Linked DNA regions of Homo sapiens: region 1 is linked to region 2. The links come from fine-mapping of genetic effects on gene expression. A gene starts in region 2. The other region holds a variant in brackets. All regions are shown on one strand. Distances are between the middles of the regions. Region 1 overlaps INTS8 (integrator complex subunit 8). Region 2 holds the start of CCNE2 (cyclin E2).

Evidence for each region. PIP is the estimated chance that this variant, and not a neighbour inherited with it, causes the effect.
Region 1: its variant is fine-mapped to the expression of CCNE2 in monocytes after Pam3CSK4 (Quach 2016, PIP 0.95).

The regions. Positions count from the first base shown.
Region 1 is chr8:94,860,199-94,868,198 of GRCh38, forward strand. It overlaps INTS8 (integrator complex subunit 8), which reads left to right. Exons shown (of 27, transcript NM_017864.4): 17 at 5,308-5,492; 18 at 5,960-5,993; 19 at 6,942-6,998; 20 at 7,078-7,139. Among named protein-coding and RNA genes, the nearest start is that of CCNE2, 31 kb to the right of the region's middle. The variant A/G (reference allele first, on the strand shown) is at 3,250.
Region 2 is chr8:94,889,284-94,900,351 of GRCh38, forward strand. It overlaps CCNE2 (cyclin E2), which reads right to left and starts at 5,918. Exons shown (of 12, transcript NM_057749.3): 1 at 5,894-5,918; 2 at 4,925-4,964; 3 at 4,740-4,836; 4 at 4,608-4,661; 5 at 3,535-3,686; 6 at 1,132-1,267. The coding sequence starts at 4,938. It also overlaps the pseudogene LOC100128548 and a transcript of NDUFAF6 not described here. RefSeq lists an enhancer at 4,730-5,291 and silencers at 5,908-6,127, 6,508-6,607, 6,738-6,787, 6,958-7,007, 7,288-7,507.

The DNA.
Region 1 (8,000 bases), 31 kb before region 2:
TTCTAAGATTATATCTTTCATGTGTTAATATTATACACACTCTGAGTAAGTAGTGGGTTTTTCTCACTTTCTGGTTTTACAGTTAAAAAAAAAACAAAGTAGGCTGGGCGTGGTGGCTCACGCCTGTAATCCCAGCACTTTGGGAGGCCAAGACGTGCGGATCACAAGGTCAGGAGTTCAAGACCAGCCTGGCCAATATGGTGAAACCCTGTCTCTACTGAAAATACAAAAATTAGCCAGGTGTGGTGGCAGGTGCCTGTAGTCCTAGCTACTCAGGAGGCTGAGGCAGGAGAATCGCTTGAACCCGGGAGGCAGAGTTTGCGTGAGCTGAGATGGTGCCATTGCACTCCAGCCTGGGCAACAAGAGCGAAACTCTACCTCAAAAAAAAAAAAAAAAAAAAAAAAACCCAAAAAACAAAGTAAAACATGTAGTGATTTAACATTATACGTCCCTGTCTCCTTTTTGGGTATATTTGGTGCTTCAGATTTTCCCATTATTTTTAATTGTTCCTATTACCTTTTGTTATTCTTTGTTTGTCCCAACTTGTCTTTGGTAATACAAAGTCCTTTAAATCGGCTGGGTGCAGTGGCTCACGCCTGCAATCCCAGCACTTTGGGAGGCCGAGACGGGCAGATCACGAGGTCAGGAGATGGAGACCATCCTGGCTAACAAGGTGAAACCCCGTCCTTACTAAAAATACAAAAAAAATTAGCCGGGCGTAGTGGCGGGCTCCTGTAGTCCCAGCTACTCGGGAGGCTGAGGCAGGAGAATGGCATGAACCCGGGAGGCGGAGCTTGCAGTGAGCCGAGATGGCGCCACTGCACTCCAGCCTGGGCGACAGAGTGAGACTCTGTCTCAAAAAAAAAAAAAAAAAAATCCTTTAAATCTGTGTTTTTCTGGGAACTTTTGTAAAACTGTGCCACTTTGTAACATTTGTGTTTGGTTACTTGTTTCTTCCTTCACGTATGTCCTTTTAAAAACTGAGCTCATTTCATTTTAACCCTTTCAGGATTTATTGAGTTTATTGATTTCTTCAGTTTTTCCCCCCTTTTTGTAATTTTTTTTTTTTTTTTTTTTTTTGAGACGGAGTCTCGCTCTGTCGCCCAGGCTGGAGTGCAGTGGCGCGATCTCGGCTCACTGCCAGCTCCGCCTCCCGGGTTCACGCCATTCTCCTGCCTCAGCCTCCCGAGTAGCTGGGACTACAGGCGCCCACTGCCATGCCCGGCTAATTTTTTGTATTTTTAGTGGTGACGGGGTTTCACCGTGTTAGCCAGGATGGTCTCAATCTCCTGACCTCGTGATCTGCCCGCCTTGGCCTCCCAAAGTGCTGGGATTACAGGCGTGAGCCATCGAGCCCGGCCCTTTTTTTTGAGACGGAGTTTTGCTCTTGTTGCCCAGGCTGGCGTGCAATGGCACGATCTCGGCTCACCGCAACCTCTGCCTCCCAGATTCAAGCAATTCTCCTGCCTCAGCCCCCCGAGTAGCTGGGATTACAGGCACGCACCACCACGCCTGGCTAATTTTGTATTTTTAGTAGAGATGGGGTTTCTCCATGTTAGTCAGGCGGGTCTGAACTCCCGACCTCAGGTGATCCGCCCACCTCGGCCTCCCAAAGTGCTGGGATTACAGGCGTGAGCCACCGCGCCCGGCCCGGCCCTTTTTGTTATCTTTACACTTGCTCGTGAAAACTGCCATACTTGAATTACCCTTTTCTTTGAAATTTCAGACATTGAATCATATCTATCTCTTCTTTTTTTTGGAGACTGAGTCCCCCTCTGTCGCCCAGGCTGGAGTGCACTGGCACAATCTCGGCTCATTGCAACCTCTACCTCCCAGTTTCAACCCATTCTTGTGCCTCAGCCTCCCAAGTAGCTGGCATTACAGGCATGCACCACCACACCCGGGTAGTTTTTTTTTGTTTTGTATTTTTAATAGAGACGGGGTTTTGCCATGGCAGGTCTAGAACTCCTGACCTCAGGTGATCCCCCCGCCTGGGCCTCCCAAAGTGCTGGGATTACAGGCATAAGCCACCGTGCCCGACCTGAATCATTTCTATCTCTTTAGTGAACTTTCTGGCATGTGAGTTCTTAATATATTGGGCACTTGTCTCATTATGGACACCAGTAATTTCTTAGCCTTTAAGAAAATCAGATGAGGGAACCGTTGTGTTCCAAGGTTACTGTCATTTACACTTACAATCATAGCTTGTCACTGAGTGCAAAGACAGCATAGTAACTCTTCTCTTTACCTCTGGCAGTGAATTCTGTGGAGCTGTGCACCAGGAGAGATAGGCATGTGTTTGTGTAATGAATGCTTGAGGGTCTGCAATGTGTAAGGACACAGGAAATTGTTTTGTTGGTTGCCTAACTCTGGGAGAGGCTGTCTCACTGCTTCCTGCAGTTCCCCTGATCTGGTCCAAAAGGAGGAAGGATGTGTGGTGACTTTGCGAAAGAATTGTCACTTAGATGTCTCTTCATATGTCATCTGGTGGTTAGGGTTTTGTGTGCCACCTTCCATACATAATTGGCCTCTCACTGCCTTGTTAATGTCAAGGAAAAAGGAATTAGAGAAAGAAGTTTAGAATGAGGGATTGTGTTTTGAAAAAAATACAATCTGAATCAGTTTCCACACTTCCAAGCTGGTGTGGAATGCACCACACACACACACGCACACACGTGTAGGAAAAAGTCTGAAAGGATATTAACAGCCATTATCTCTAGATAATGGGAAATTTGGTGATTTTAATGTTTTCTATTCTGTTACATAGGAACATATTTTCCTACTCATATATTACGTAATCACAAATAGGAACAGAAAATTCTTAAGCATGTCACTAAAATATACCCTTTTGAAATAATATAAAACTGTCTAGTCTGCCCCTTGGATCAGAGTGGGTGGCAGTGTCACATAATGGAAAGGGCACAGGTTATAGGCACTTGGATGATAAGAACCTAGGTAGTAGTGGGGGGTTGGCAGCCACAGTGGTGCTAGTATAGGCTAAAACCTTAGGTTGTTCATGTGGCCTACCAGGCTTCTTAAGGTGTGCATGCTTCTCCTCCTCCAGGTGCAGTTCCCCTGCCCCTTGGCGTTCCAGCCCTGTGCTGGCAGCACCAGCATGCCCACGCCATGTTTCCATTCTGCACCTGTGCACACGCTGTTTGTCACATTAGCCAGGATGTCCTTTCCAGCTTTGCGTGTTTGTGTGATTTCTCTGATGCTTTCCCATATTCTTTTCTCTGTAAATGAGT[A/G]AATCACTTCCTCTTCCTGCTTCCTTTGTACTGTTGTACTGATCCTGCTACTGTTGTACTGTTGACTTATTTCTTTTGTTGTGTTTATGCTGAATAGTAAGTTATATATCCACTTGTCTTCTCTATAAGACAATGAACTGCTTCAGGGCAGTTAATTTTTATGTTGTGCTTTCCATGATGCCCACCACACATAGTAGGTGCTCAAGAATGTTTGTGGAATTCAATTGATTTGAGGCCTTAGACTTTGAAAATTTTTTAAATTAAATTTATGTAATAAATTCAGTGACCTTAAAGCATATGATCCCTGACAACAGAAGATGAATTTGAGCTAAGAGCTACAGTAGCCCTGGCATTACACTGCAGTGAATAGCTGCATGTATTGTGATTCCATTTGTCAGAGAAGAGTATTTTAGGTAAGCTTGCAGGATGAAATATCCTGCTAGGCCATTGGTCCATGTCTATTCACCTAGTATAGGCAGGGTTTTTATGTTATTCTCACGAGCTTCGGAAAGCCACAGTACTCTTGTTAATTTTCTTAGGCATGATCACAGAGTTGTGGTTATGGAGAAGAATGTCCTCGTCCTTAGAAGATGTATGTGGAAGTATTTAGGGATGAAATATTGTGTCTAACTTAGTTTAATATGGTTTAACAAAAAAATTTATGTAGATATATAAAGCAAACATGGCAGAATAGTCACAATGTGTCAGGTATTTATTGAACTTTTTTTTTTATTTTTCTGTTTGAAATTTTTCATAACAAAAAAATGTAGAGAAAAACCACCAATTTTTGTCCTTGTCACAATCTTGCCACCTCCTTAAAAAAGCCGCCTTAAGCAGTAGGGACCCCTAGGTCCATTTTAAGTAGAAACCAGGGGTTCCTGATGGATTTGAAATTATCCTTGCTACTGCACCCTCTACAAGAGCGATGGAGTATAAAAGTTAATATGAACAAGGGTAAAGGGGCCCAGTTCTGAATTTGGCCAGATGCTGTGGCTCAAGCCTGTAATCTCAGCACTTTGGGAGGCCGAGGCGGATAGATCACTTGAGGCCAGGAGTTCGAGACCAGCCTGGCCAACATGGTGAAACCCCGTCTCTACTAAAAATACAGAAATTAGCCGGGCATGGTGACACATGCCTGTAATTCCAGCTACTCAGGAGGCTGAGGCACAAAAATCGTTTGAGCCTGGGAGGCGGAGGTTGCAGTGAGCCAAGATTATACCACTGCATTCCAGCCTGGGTGCAGAGCAAGACCCTGCCTCCAAAAAGAAAAGAAAATAAAAGAAATTCTGAATTTATTGTAAGTCAATCTTTCCCTGTCTTTTGCTTTTAGCTTTCCCACTCTTTATTTCTGGGTCCTCCCTACATCCTAGGTCATTGAGGCTGCCTTTATTCATACCAGTCACTTTGTGTAACCTGTCCTGCCTTAATTCTACCTCCTCAGAAGAGCAGTAGCTCCATTCCCAGTTGCTACCAATTTTCTTAGAGAAAAATTGCTTTAAATCTATATCCCTTAATTCTGCCAACTTCAGTTTCCTTATTCCTTTCCTTATTTTTTTCGTTGAAACAATTTTTTTTTTTAGTGATTAAAAGTTGTATGTGTGTGTATTTGCACGTGGGAGAGAGAGAGATCTGAGCACTATTTTAACCTCACCCCCTGGGCTTTTACCACAGTTAACATCTTGGTGTATGCCTTCCATTACACTTTTTTTTCCCTATGTAACGTGGGATCATACTATGTGTATTTAGCAACTCGTTTTTTTTTCCACTTAATAAATCACCTATCTCTTTGCGTTGTCTCATTTTCGTTTTCATTAGACTATAACTGTTCAGAAACAAAGTTCGTATGCTCGAACCAGAGGATCTTTCTCAGATTCAGATCTGTCAGTACGCAATGAGCCCTAAATTCCTCAAAGGTTGTACAGAATGCACAGCATAAAATAACTGTGCTTAGTATGTTTGGGCAGTCATTCCATCTTTCCTCCAGTGTGCCTTGATAATAGAACTAATGTGCACGACATTACAGATTATCTTTTGTGTATTTTGTTTTTCATGTTATAGCTTGGACAGCTTTTAGCAGCTACATGCAAAGAACTTCCAGGCCCTAAAGAAAGTAGACGGACTGCCAAAGACCTTTGGGAAGTTGTTGTTCAAATCTGTAGTGTGTCCAGTCAGCACAAACGAGGAAATGATGGCAGAGTTAGTTTAATAAAACAGAGGGAATCTACGTTAGGTATCATGTATCGGTATGTATTGGTACGTTTCTATTAGTTGTGTTTGAGTTCTTAATATTTATCCTATTTATACTATTAACCTATTAAAGGTTGATTTCAAGAACATCAGCTTTTATTCTGTATATCATAAAGTTGGACAATCTTACGAGTTCTGTAGTACTCACCTGTGATGAACCTGTCTGCCTTGGCCACCTTTGGAAAGATCTTTTGTTTATATGTCATTTTAAGAAACTATTAATCATTTAATCAACTGGAATTCAAAATCAGTAGTATTTAAGGTTGGATAGTATTGAAGACTTCACATGTGATTAAAACAGGGAAGAAATGTTATTAGGTTAGTATAACAGTAGAATATTACATTCCTTTTCACACTTGCAGAATTGGAGCATTAAGAATAAACCTTCACCTATAATTTACTTTCTTGATTTTATTTTTTATTTCTAATATTAAATGTGTATTCAAAAATTTTTGTTTTGTAGGAGTGAACTGCTTTCTTTTATCAAAAAATTACGAGTAAGTTTTATTAAAAATTGCTCTAATTACTATTGCTGGTTTTTGTAGAATATGACTAAAAATTATTGGGTACTTCAAATACTGACTAAATTATTATTTGTTTTTTAATTTTTTTTTAAGGGACAGGGTCTTGATCTGTCACCCAAGCTGGAGTGCTGAGGTGTGATTGTAACTCACTGCGTCTTCTAATTCTTGAGGTTAAGCAGTCCTCCTGCCTCAGCTTTCTGAGGAACTGGGACTACAGGCACATGTAACCATGCCCAGCTAATTTTTTGTAGAGATGAGGTCTCCCCTTGTTGCCCAGGCTAGTTTCTAACTCCTGGTCTCAAATTATCATCCCTTCTTGGCCCCTCACAGTGCTGGGATTACAGGTGTTAGCCACCTTGCCTGGCCTCTGGTTAAATTATTAAAGTGACCTGTTAATGTGCTTTTCTTCAGTGATCATTATTGGTGGGTGGGATATTCTGACTGGAAAAGTTTGTATTGCATTTACTTTACCATGTTTTAGTGAACGGAGCAGGTATTTCTTTAAATTGTAAAGAAGTCTTCATAATAGGGGCTAGATGTGTGAAGCCTGGCTTTAATTTTTGCTTAGTAGGATCAATGTCATATTTACTTATTGGACGTAACCTAGGTTTCACTCTTTGAACATTATTTTAAGGGATAAAAAGTTACTTGAGAGTCATGTGAGGAGTTGAGCGTGGAGATAGCACCATAAGCCAAACATTTATGCTAATTTTATGTAAATTATGTGCTATGGTCCACGCCCCGCCCCCACATGCGATTAAAAAGTTGATTTTTAGTGTGCTAAAGCACATGCTAAAACAGATGCTACATTTTCAAAAGGCAAGGGTCTTTTAGAATGCTTGATGTCTGTGAGGTTGACAGGAGCAATATTAAATAAATATACATACACTGTTTAAGGATTCTGTGTTTTCTTTCTCATAGGAACCACTCGTTTTGACTATTATTTTATCACTCTTTGTGAAACTTCACAATGTTCGGGTAAGTATTTCATAATTTCATTTAGAAAAATTTAAAAGAAATTTCTTTGTAAATCACACCTTTTTTTTTCTTTTTAAAGGAGGACATTGTGAATGATATTACAGCTGAACACATTTCTATTTGGCCATCTTCCATTCCCAAGTAAGTAGTGGTATAGCTTTTATTTTATTAATTGAGTTATGTATTTGGAAACCATTCTGACTAGTATAGATACCCTTAGATAATTTTATTAAAGGGCCAGAAATCTAAGATTCTACAGTCTTTGTGTTTCTCTATTATGATAATGATAATTATCTTCCTGTAAATTGTGGATAAGGCATAACCCTTTTTTTTTTTTTTTTTTTTGAGGCAGAGTCTCACTCTGTTGCCCAGGCTGGAATGCAGTGGTACAATCTCTGCTCACTGCAATCTCTGCCTCTTGGGCTCAAGCAATTCTCATGCCTCAGCCTCCCAAATAGCTGGGATTACAGGCACCCACCACCACGCCTGGCTAATTTTTGTATTTTTAGTAGACACATGGTTTTGCCATGTTGGCCAGGCTGGTCTCAAACTCCTGACCTCAAGTGATCTGCCCACCTCAGCCTCCCAAAGTGCTGGGATTACAGGCAGGAGCTACCACACCTGGCCCAGCATAACTCTTAAGTAGGAGTTAAGATTTATCAGCCTTGGAACAGAAGATATAAGTGGTCCTGATTTTCAGTAGAATTGGAAAATTGGGGCCAATGAAAGAATGACTTTCTATCAGGTTTCCAGCATCTTATTTCTTTTACAAGTATCTATTTGAAAGTGATTTCTTTTTTCATAATTTTTTGTATGTCTCATCTAATGCTGCAGTTATCAAAAGGCTCCCAATCTCTTTTAGTTGCTGTAGGAACTAAACTAAACTTCTTTAATTACTTTGAGAAATATTCCCTTTTGCATGCACTACCTGAGAATCACAGTAAGATGATGGGGACTTTTTTTAGGGGAGGAAAAAGGGTTCATTTACTTGAAGAAATCATG
Region 2 (11,068 bases):
TGAAGAATACACTAAGATAGAGTTTAACACTGCTGGATTTGATATATTCTGTATGCTGTTGCATACATAATCATATTTAGGTAAAAACAGGAACAAATTGAATTGGATAACCACTGGATGAATATCAGTATAACAAAAAGGAAACAAATTAAAAATTAACATAATTGTGCTTAAGTTGATTCCATGATCACTAGACAGTCAGAAAAAGTCAAAACCCAATGCCTTCTTGTGCCCACAATTAAAATACAATCTTTCCTTCTAGTCAGAATAAGGAAAAAGATGACCTGATGCAAAAGGATAACATTTTAGTCTTAAAAACTGTTCTGATAGCTTCTGAGATCTATTCTGCCATGTGTTCCTCCTCCAAAAAGTCTATGGTCTTTTTCCCTTAGAATGCTTCATCTCTTGTCTTAAAGACAGACTACAGAGCAAATATCCAAGAGTTGGAGGAAAAATCAGTTTGTCATCAACATAAGTAATGATTTCCTTAATAATAATTTTAGAAACTTTTTTAGAGCTATTATCCAGAGGAAAGGGAATGGACCTAAACAAGAGAGAAAAATCTGGCACAAATCTATAGGGGCTTCAGGATCACTATTCCTTTAAATTAATGGTATATTTCGGAAAAGAATAGAAGAATATAATAAAGAGAAGGTATCTGGACAATAGAGGGCGTAGAGCTTCCAGATATCCATAGTCTCATTATGGTTTAGGATATAGAAATCAGGATTCCTCATCATCATGATTTTGTTAATACAGAAAAAGACTTCAGAGGGCCCTGAAGCCTAGTTCTAGTTCTTCACTTTGTATAGCATAATTCAAAACCTAATCAACTATACATTCCATTCACCTTGAGTATCTGTGGCACCCAGAAAGTGGTTGGTACACAGCAGTATCCACAGGTAACAGGAATTCTGAATTGGGTTTAGTTATATGTAGTAGCTTTGTCATGGTTTTACTCTTATAGAGTCACTTTCCACTTTGGGTGCAATCAACTACAGTAAGTACCTCAAAAAAGACAGCTTCCTGGGGATGAACAATAAACTCTTGAGAGTACATAGAAAGCACATTTACAGCTAAATATGTTTCCATCATACAGAGACAAAGGAAATTTGTATTGCTGTAACATACCTCTAAAAGCCAGTCTAGAAGTATGGACCTCATCTGTGGTTCCAAGTCAGAATGCAGAACTTCAAAATGTTTGTCATGAACATATCTGCTCTCCTTTTTTAACATGTTTAGCCAGACTTCTTTTGAACATCCCCAGCTATGGAAAGAGAGGAAAAAAACCATATATATATATATATATTTTTTTTTTTTTTTTTTTGAGACAGAGTCTCGCTCTGTGGCCCAGGCTAGAGTGCAGCGGCACAATCTTGGCTCACTGTAATCTCCACCTCCTGGGTTCAAGCGATTCTTGTGCCTCAGCCTCCCAAGTAGCTGGGAGTTACAGGTGCCTGCCACCAAGCCTGGCTAGTTTTTGTATTTTTAGTAGAGATGGGGTTTCACCATGTTGGCTGGGCTAGTCTCGAACTCCTGGCCTCAAGTGATCGACCTGCCTCAGCCTCTCAAAGTGCTGGGATTACAGGCGTGACCCACCATGCCCGGCTAAAAAACATAATTTAAATTGTGCAATCCATGTAATATACAAACTCTGTTTCACATAGATAAAATTCAACTTTCAGACATTGAAATGCAACTTTTAATTAGAACTTGGAAGAAGCTCTTAAAGTAAATAAGAAAAAAAACTTCTGCCTTAATTTTTGGAAACAATTTCCTTTGCATGAATAAATAGAAGCCTGAAGTAACACAGTGGGAACCTGGACTATGATCATCCAAACCTGCAGATTTCAAGGGAGTGCTTTCTAGTTCCACTTATTTATACTTTACAAAGGTTGCTGTTAAAAGATAACCACGTTGCTTTTCCCATAAGTGGTCTGAAGTAATCTGTGAAAATAGCTGGCTATTCACTTTACCTGGAAAACCCCACAAAATCATGCAAATCAAGAGGTTCAAATCTTTGTGTTCACTGTAAGAACACTCGTGAAACTGCCCAGGCTATCAAGGGTATGCATATATGAAAAACCACAAAGTGGCCGGCACAGTGGCTCACACCTGTAATCCCTGCACTTTGGGAGGCCAAGGTGGGTGGATCACTTAAGGTCAGGAGTTCGAGACCAGCCTGGCCAACATGGTGAAACCCCGTCTCCACTAAAAATACAAAAAATTAGCTGGGCGTGGTGGCATGCTTGTAATCCCAGCTACTCAGGAGGCTGAGGCAGGAGAATCACTTGCACCCAGGAGGTGGAGGTTGCAGTGAGCCGAGATCGTGCCACTGCACTCCAGCCTGGGCAACAACAGCAAACCTCTGTCTCCAAAAAAAAAAAAAAAAAAAAACACCATGAAGTATTTTTAAAATGTCACTTTACAGAAACAGCATGTGCCATTCTGACATTACAATGGTGGAGTTGGTAGGTGTACCCAGGCCAAGCAGTGGGACTGGACACAAGGTTGGTGGCCCAAAAAGAGTGCTGAATTTTTGCTGCACATGCTTAAAAATGCAGAGAGTAATGCTGAACTTAAGAGTTTAGATGTAGATTCTCTGGTCATTGAGCATCTCCAAGTGAACAAAGCACCTACGATGTGCCAACGGACCTACAGAGCTCATGGTCGGATTAACTCACACGTGATCTCTCCCTGCCACATCGAAATGATCTTTAGTGAAAAGGAACAAATTGTTCCTAAACCAGAAGAGGCGGTTGCCCAGAAGAAAAAGATATCCCAGAAGAAACTGAAGAAACAAAAACTTATGGCACAGGAGTAAATTCAGCACTAAAATAAATGCAATTAAAAGTGAAAAAAAATGTTTTCTCAAGAGCAATACAAAAAAGTTAAACACATAAGGCATGTGATCACAGTCAAGAGAAGTCTCAATCACCTCTAAATAGATCATCTACAGCAGGATCACCTATGGGGTGGGTAAGGTGGGACAGAATGCAGGGAAAGGGGGATTGGTGAGTTTAAGTGTCTGATTCCATTAAATTGCTTATTAAGGCCAATCATAAATTAATACAGTACATGTTTTGTATAAGCTGTACCTCTTAGTTACACTCATGGACTAGAAAAAAGAATTAAGTATAGACCTTATTAAGTTTGGTAAGAAATAAATAGGGTTGATACATCAATTGGAAAAGCTTCCTTTGAGTTGAAGCTGCAAGAAACACGAATAAAAATTTTAAAGGAAAAAGCTGTACATGTAAAAATGTTTCTATCTTAACAAAAAACTAATTCAGTCCTGTTAAGTCTTTATAGTACTCAGCAAGCAAATGAAAATAATTTTATAGAATCAGTGTTTTAAATACCCATATCATTTGCAACCAGCACTACTCTCAGATAAAATGACATATGATTAAATATTAGTAAACAATTTTTACACGTTTTTCTACTTTATGAAAGCAAAAGACAAAATAGTGCCATGTATTAAATCAGCACAACTTTATATCTTTGAAATAAAATTACTGAAATTTTTCTTACCTTAAATCAGGCAAAGGTGAAGGATTAATAAAAAGATTTTTAAATCTGTAATTTGTAAATCTGGAGAAATCACTTGTTCCTATTTCTTTGTGAGGTGTTTCAATGATAATGCAAGGACTGATCCCCCCAGATAATACAGGTGGCCAACAATTCTGTCATAAAAAAAAAGAAAAATATCAATTTGTGCAAGGAAAACCTTAGTTTTTGTAATGGATCTTTCATAAATGAAAGCTAATATGTCTAAAGAATCATAATTTTAGCTAACATAGATGGCAATATAGCTAATTTGACATTCACATTTTATAAACAAGCCATATAGCTCATATTGATTTTTATAAAGAGTAATAGGATGTTTTAGACAACAAAATGCAATTCTGGTAATAGAAGACACCAGGTGTCGAAGAAGGACAGTAATAACAAAATGCATCTGCAGTCTAAAATACTAATCACTTTCAAGATCACAGAATCGTTCTCTGTATCTAGCAATAGTAGCAGGGACCTTTTTTTTTTTTTTTCAAATAAGCTCTTTTTAAAAAAAGTGTGCTCTGATACTTTTGAATATTTGAAAGCAAAACCTTAAAAATGGAATCGATTACTTAAACGATTCTTTTCCCAATAATGCTGGTTTCAAACGCAATCACTATCTCCAAAGTGCTGCTTTCTGTAAAACACATAGGAAGAAGAGGTACCAAAGGGCTGCGTGCCAGGCTGTCAGTGATCTCACATCCTATTTATGCCCAAGAAGCAGCTATTAGGACCGTCTACTAGAGTCTGCGAGGGAACAAAGAGCAGTATATTGGACAGATTAGGCGGGCCCTGGTGCACCAGGCAGTTCCAAGAGGGAGGGATTTACAAAAAGGAACCAGCTGCTTGAAGGCACTTATTCTGCAGCTGTAGTAGGATTCGGGCACATAGAAACCACCCAAAGATAGGCGCCTTCCTGCTGACCTCTAGGGGCATTAAAAGTAAAAGTGTCAGAGGAATCTATCGCAAAGCAATAAACACATAATTCTATTCTTATTCATCTATCCTCCATTTTTCCCCCAAACCCACCCAGCCCAGTTCTGCATTACCCTAATTTCATACTGATGTTTCTTGGTGACCTCCTCTCTTCTTTTTTTGACATCCTGGAAAATAGAAAAGACCATTGGTAAACTAAAGTCCCAGCATGGAATTTCGTTCCTCCCTCTTTCTCCTTAAATCACCTGGGTAGTTTTCCTCTTCTTGGCCTGGATTATCTGGGCTTCTTGGGGGGATTCCGTCTGGCTGGGCTGGGGCTGCTGCTTAGCTTGTAAACGGCTACTGTAGTGAATTTTTAAAAAGGAAGTGTAATTAGTAAGTTAAAGGCAGCAACTAATTTGAAACATGTCTCTAAGACAGATAATGTTACCTTCGTCTTGACATTCTCTTCTTTCAGGTGTATAAAACCTCTGAAGGGGGGAGAGGAAAAGCCGCAGTCAAGTACATTGTCATTCACATTCTCCAAGTGCCAGTAAGACGCTGATTCGCAGGTGAAAGCTCAGTCCCTCCGAAGGGGGCCTGGGCCCTGTGACCCTGCCATCTTCTGTGCTATGTTAGCTAGCTCATGGTAATTCATTTTGGATACAAGCCTGCATTTCCTCAACTGAATGTACAGCTGGAACGCGAGTGTCCAAAAATTTACCAAGCACTCCTGACACCTTGAACGCGCAGGGAGGCACATCTTCCTCAAACGGGTTTTTCTGGGTCCTCCACCCTCTCCCCCGTACACCGGGAGTGGGGCTTGGGCAGCGCCCCCACGTCCCGCCTCCCTCCTGGACCAGCGGGGAGAGGGGGTTGTGGAGGCGAAATGCTGTGGAGAAGCCGGTTCCGCGCCAATTTGGAGAGCGGCGGTGGCGGGGAAGCAGGGGGCGGAGGAACCAAGACTGGTGTCACGGCCTCCAGTCTCCTTTCCCTCCTTCCCGGCCCTGCCGCCCTACCGCCGCTCGGAGGGGCGCCGGGACCCCAACTCCAGATGGGAAGCGGAGGGCGTGGGGGAGGGCAGGAAAAGGAGCTAAAGAAAGGGGAGACTGGGCTGGCTGGGAACTTTTCTCCCCATGGAGGGGACCCGGCCTCCCATCCTCTCTCCCACGGGATAGCTCCCCAAATGAGGGTGGGATAGAGAAGCCCCTAGAATGAGGGGCGGCTCTCCATGCCCAGCCGCTTCCCGGTCCCCTGCCAAGGTTCCTGACAGGGACGGAACGCGGGAACCCATGACCCCCAGTCGTCTAGTTCTCAGCCCTCCCGATTTTCCTCCCTGAGGCTCCCGCCTGTGGTAAGTGATCGGCCCAACTGGGCTTTCTTTCCTCCCACATCCCCCCTACGCGCAGCAACTCCTCACCGCCAGACCAGCTACCGCTCGGCTCAGCTGGCGCCGGCGCCAACCCAATATATAGGCCGGGCCGGTCCCGCCCCGCACGCATGCGCCTCAGACTGACACCTCCGGACAGCGCGCTCCCCTCTCCCGCCCGTCCGCCCGCGTGCCCGCGCGCCGCGCCCTGCTCTCAGTGCGCGCCCGCCACCCGGAGCGGCCGTGGGGTCCACTCTACCGGGCCTTCTGCCCGCGTCCACCGCGCTCCACGGCGCGGCCGGCGGCGGTAGGGAAACTCTCAGGGGCTCCTTCTCCGCGGCTGTTCTCCCCGCCGCCTGGCTCGCGCATCTCCCGCCAGTTTGCTTTTGCTTCCTCCCACTGCAACTCCTGGATTTCGGGGGTGTCAGCCTGCGGCTCAGCCCGGGCGCATAACAGGGGGACACGACTCGGGCGACCATAGGGTGGCTGGGAAGTGACCGTCCAGGGGCGCGCCCTAGCTGTCCCGCCAAGGCCTCAGGGAACCCAGGTCTTTCCTGAGCGACGCGGGGACCCGAGGGCCCGCCCCTCGGGGAGGAGCAAAGCGTTGGCTGAAGAGCTGGCCAATGGGAGGCACGGGCGGCAGCACAACGTGGAGTGGCTGCAGAATGTAAACACCACTCAGCCACGCGCCTGGCCAAGTGCGGCTCTGCTCTCCCCAGTCCCGGTCCGCGACCACCCGGAGCCCGCTCCGCCGGCCTTGCGCGGCGCGCCCAGGGAAGGCATTTCCAGCCCGCCCACCCAGGTATGTATCAACCCTGCTTTCCGGCTCCCTGCTCCCCCTACCGGGTTTCCCTCCCCATGGGTCGGTCGCTCCCCCAACCCGCCGCTCTGCCCCTGCAGTGGCCTCCAGCTGCCACCCCGCAGTCCCCGCGCAGGAAACGCTCGCGCCACGCCGCGCCCTCCCTTGCTTCCTCTCTTCTCCACCTCCAATTCCGGGATCCCAGAGGGTAAAACCCCTCTCCGGAGCGGGGCCCGGGAACGGCATTCCTCCTCCCCCTGAGCGCGGTGGTCCCCGGGGACCTGGCCGGGTGGGAAGAAAGATCGCCACCACGTGCAGGCCCCGGGCCCGCCTGCCGCGCCCCGCCCCGCCGCCGCCGCCAGCGCGCCCTGCGGAGCCCGCGCGAGCCGGCAGCGCGGGAGGGCGCCGTTCGCGCCCGAGCGCTGTTGGGAGGAGGGGGGCCCGACGCTCTTCCTTTATCCTTCCCCGGGTGTTTAAACTTAGGGGTCCCTTCGCTGCCTCTATGAATGCCCCCACAACTGGCGCACCCCAAAACTGCACATCGTCAAGTCAGACTTGCGGCGGGTATTCCGCAAACAGGTTTTGCGGCGGGAGCAGCGAGGCGGGGAACAGCTCCGGGAACAAAGATCCCCCGGGTGGAGGAGCAGTGCGAAGGCGTCTCGGAACCCGCGGTAGCTCGGGCGGGCCGCGTCTGCCCAGGCCCTGAGCGAGCCGGACGGCGAGCGGGCCGCGCCGGGGAGACGGAGCCTCGCGGGCGGGAGCCCTTCCCGAGATGCACCGGGAGGCGGCGCCCGGCGACCCCCGCTCCCGCCCGGCCTTTTGTGCTGCGCCGCTCGAGCGCGCTTGAGGCCCGGGAAATAGCCGCCGCCGGATGGGCGCTTTGGGGCGGGCGAAGTCCTTTTTCACACTTTTTCGATTCTTCGTCTCGTGACGCCGGCAAAATAATTCTCTCCCTAATTTACCTGTAGGAGCTTTGCCCAAGGTGACAGCATCAGGAGAAGCCCATGCCTTGTCAGTCCCAAGAAACTTTCTGCCATTTCTAACGCTTAGGATGGCTCTCGGCGGGGCAGAAGTTGCCTCCCTTTTGCAGTCACTCAAAACGCAGTTAGCGGTATAGCTAGCTTAAAGGTCTAACAGCATGATGTCAAGAAAAGGGGTCAGGGGTCTCCCAACAAGGGTCACCTGATCGTAAGCAGAACTGGTGGCCCTCGTGGTTGAATTTGATAAAATATACTGAAAACCAGTATGTCGAGTAACGTTTGTGGGAATCATCTTTGAATGATGAATGTATGCTCAGTACTGAGTTAACTAGTAAATTGATTTTAAAAGACACTGCTCTTATAAATGTTCTTTCCATACCCTTGACTATTATGTGAACAGAATGCAATCATAGTAAAGGAGAAATTAGAAAATTCCAAGACGTCTTTGTGTGGAAAGGAATAGAGTGAATTCTCCCATATTACAGATACCTGGTCAATAGACAAGTGGGTCTGTTAAAAAAAGAGAAAATAAAGGGTAGGGGGCGGGTATGTTTGTTTTTAGCTTGCTCTTTTCCTACTTATCCGTTTTAAAATTCACCTAAAGTATATTTCCCCTATTGTACATGTAAAGTTAAAACACCATGGTAAATAAACTGTTGGCCTCTACCATGCTTCTCTGGGGTAACTATTTTGATTGCTCCGACATTCATTTTCAGGAGGAAAAAACCCCAGAAGATGCTTGGAGGCACAGGCTTAAAAAAAAAAATTCAGGCTTAGCCCACCCATTTCTTTATTCTGTGCCTTTTTTTTTTTTTTTTGTATATCTCCTCTGTCGAAGCTTCACAGATCCTTTTCCCTGTGCTACAGTTATGCTCATCTTACAGGACAAAAATTACTTATTTAAATGTCTTTTATTTCCAACTCGACCTCGGAAATTGTTTTGTTCATCTTTTTATAGCCAGTATTCAGCAGTTCAAAGGCATATATAGTAGGACTTGGGTAAATGCTGATTTGAATTGTATGTAGGATATCCCATTATAGAATTTTAGGTCTCTAGGTTACCATGATGGATGATAGACGGATGGTGGAATTATTCCCAATAAATACCAGGCTTTTAAAAACATTAATAGACTTTATTTTTTAGAACAGTTTTAAAGAAAAATTGAGCAGGTGGAACAGGACTTCCATATACTCACTCCCCTCTCCCACCCACCACACATGCACAGTTTCCCCTGTTATTGACATCTTATAGTATGGCATATTTATTACCCTATGATGTGTTTGCTATTTAATGAATCAATGTCGATGTGTTATTATTAACTAAAGTCCATACTTTATTCCTATGTCTTTAGTTTTTACCTAATATCTTTTTATTGCTCTAGGATCTCGTCCAGGATACCCATCACATTTAGATGTCATGTCTTAGGTTCCTCTTGGCCATGGCAGTTTCTCAGACTTTTGTTTTGATGACCTTAACAGTTTTGAGGAGTGCTGGTCAAGTATTTTGTAGGCTAACCATGCGACAAAAACATCAGATGAATTCCGGTAGACGAGTTGACTGGGGTTATGGGTTTGGGGAGGAAGATCATAGAGATAAAGTACCATTTTCATCACATCATACTAAGAGTTCATACCGACATCATGATTTATTACTGTTGATGTTGATCTTGACCGCTTGGCTGAGGTAATGTTTGTCAGGTTTCTCCATTGTAAAATTACTCTTTTTCCTCCCTTTCCATACTGTGCTCTTTGGAAGGAAGTCACTGTGTGCAGCCCACACCTAAGGAGTGAGGAGTGATCTTTTTTAGGGTGAAGTATCTGTATTATTTTAATTTATTCTGCATTAGAGATTTGTCTCTTTTTCCCCATTCATTAACTTAGTCATTTATTCCTATCAGTATGCACTCATGGATATTCGTTTTATAATTTGAATTATAATTCAATAATACTTTATCTTGTTGGTCAGATTGTTCAAAACTTTCACCAAGGTATTTTTCATACGTTTTTATTGTCATGAGACTCATTTGAAGCTAAGCAAAAATGAATGGTGCTTAATAATAGTATTTCTCATGTAACAAGAAAGGAATAAAACATTTTCTTCCCATTTAATGAAACTTGCTTATCCTTCATGCTTATCTAAAACATACATAAAGGAAAAAAAATCTTTGTATTTTAGTAGAGACAAGGTTTCACCATGTTGGTCAGGCTGGTCTTGAACTCCTGACCTTAAATCAACCGCCCGCCTCGGCCTCCCAAAGTGCTGGGATTACAGGCATGAGCCACTGCACCTGGCCAATTTTTTAAATTAGAATCAGGTGAGATGCAGTTTTAAAAACAATTTTATTGTTAAACAAATACATTTTACTGTAAGATAGTTTTGACTTCACATTCTACTTTGAAGCGTCATTGAGACCTCTAGATGTCCACAGAACACACTTTGAGAACTGCATACATAGTTGCCCAAACCAGAATCCTGGGAGTGAACTTAGTCATTCCTTTTTTCTTCTTTTCTGAGCTTCATAATCATAGTTAATATTTCCTGGGTAAGATAATGTGCTAGGCTGTACCCCAAGCCTTCACATACTATTAACTCCTTCAATCTTCCACCAACACTATAAGACAGGTGCTAATGACTGTCATTCCTGGTTTATAAATGAGGAAGCTGAGGCACAAGTGTAGTTTGCCTAAGATCCACAGTAGAGTCTGACTCCAGCTCACCTGTGCTGTGCTGCCTCCATTTATCACCAAATTCCTTTCTCTTCTGTTCCCAAGTCATTTCCACATTCATGCTTTATTTCCCTCTGCCTTAGTTCAGGACACCATTCTCTCTTCAGTGCAATACTCTTCTAACTGGTTTTCCTGACATGCATTGCCTCTTGCAGTCTGCCTTCCAACCTGTTGCCAAACTGCCCTTCCAAAGCACAGATGCCACTCCTTAAAACCTTTCTGTACCTCCGCTTGGATTAACAGTCAAACCCCAAAACTTAAACACACAAGACCTCTTGCGCCCAGGAGATCCCCCTACATGGAGCTGTCCACATCCCCTGTCCTTCTCACCTTGGGACCTTGGCACCTGCACCTCATTCTCCCCACCTCCATTGCCTTTCCCCAGCTAGATCCCATTTATTCATTAATACTCAAACACTGCCTTTTCTAGAAAGCTGTCTTGCCCTGTTCTGAAGTAGGACTTTCCTTTGTAGCACCTCTTCTCCAACTTATGCTTGCCTCTACCCCTGCTTGTCTCTGCCAGGCTGTAGGGAGCCCCTGGGGACAGGGGCTGTCTCTTTCAGGGCTGGCCTGGGGCCTGGTGGACCGCAACCCTCTTTGTGGGATAAATGGAGGGGAGGGGGCAGAGGTGTGCTCTCGGTGGGGGGCCCTTGGAACCTAACTCCAGGGAACAGTCCCTTGAAAGAGTTTTGCAGCTGGCACCTTGGAGGGCTCAGCAGG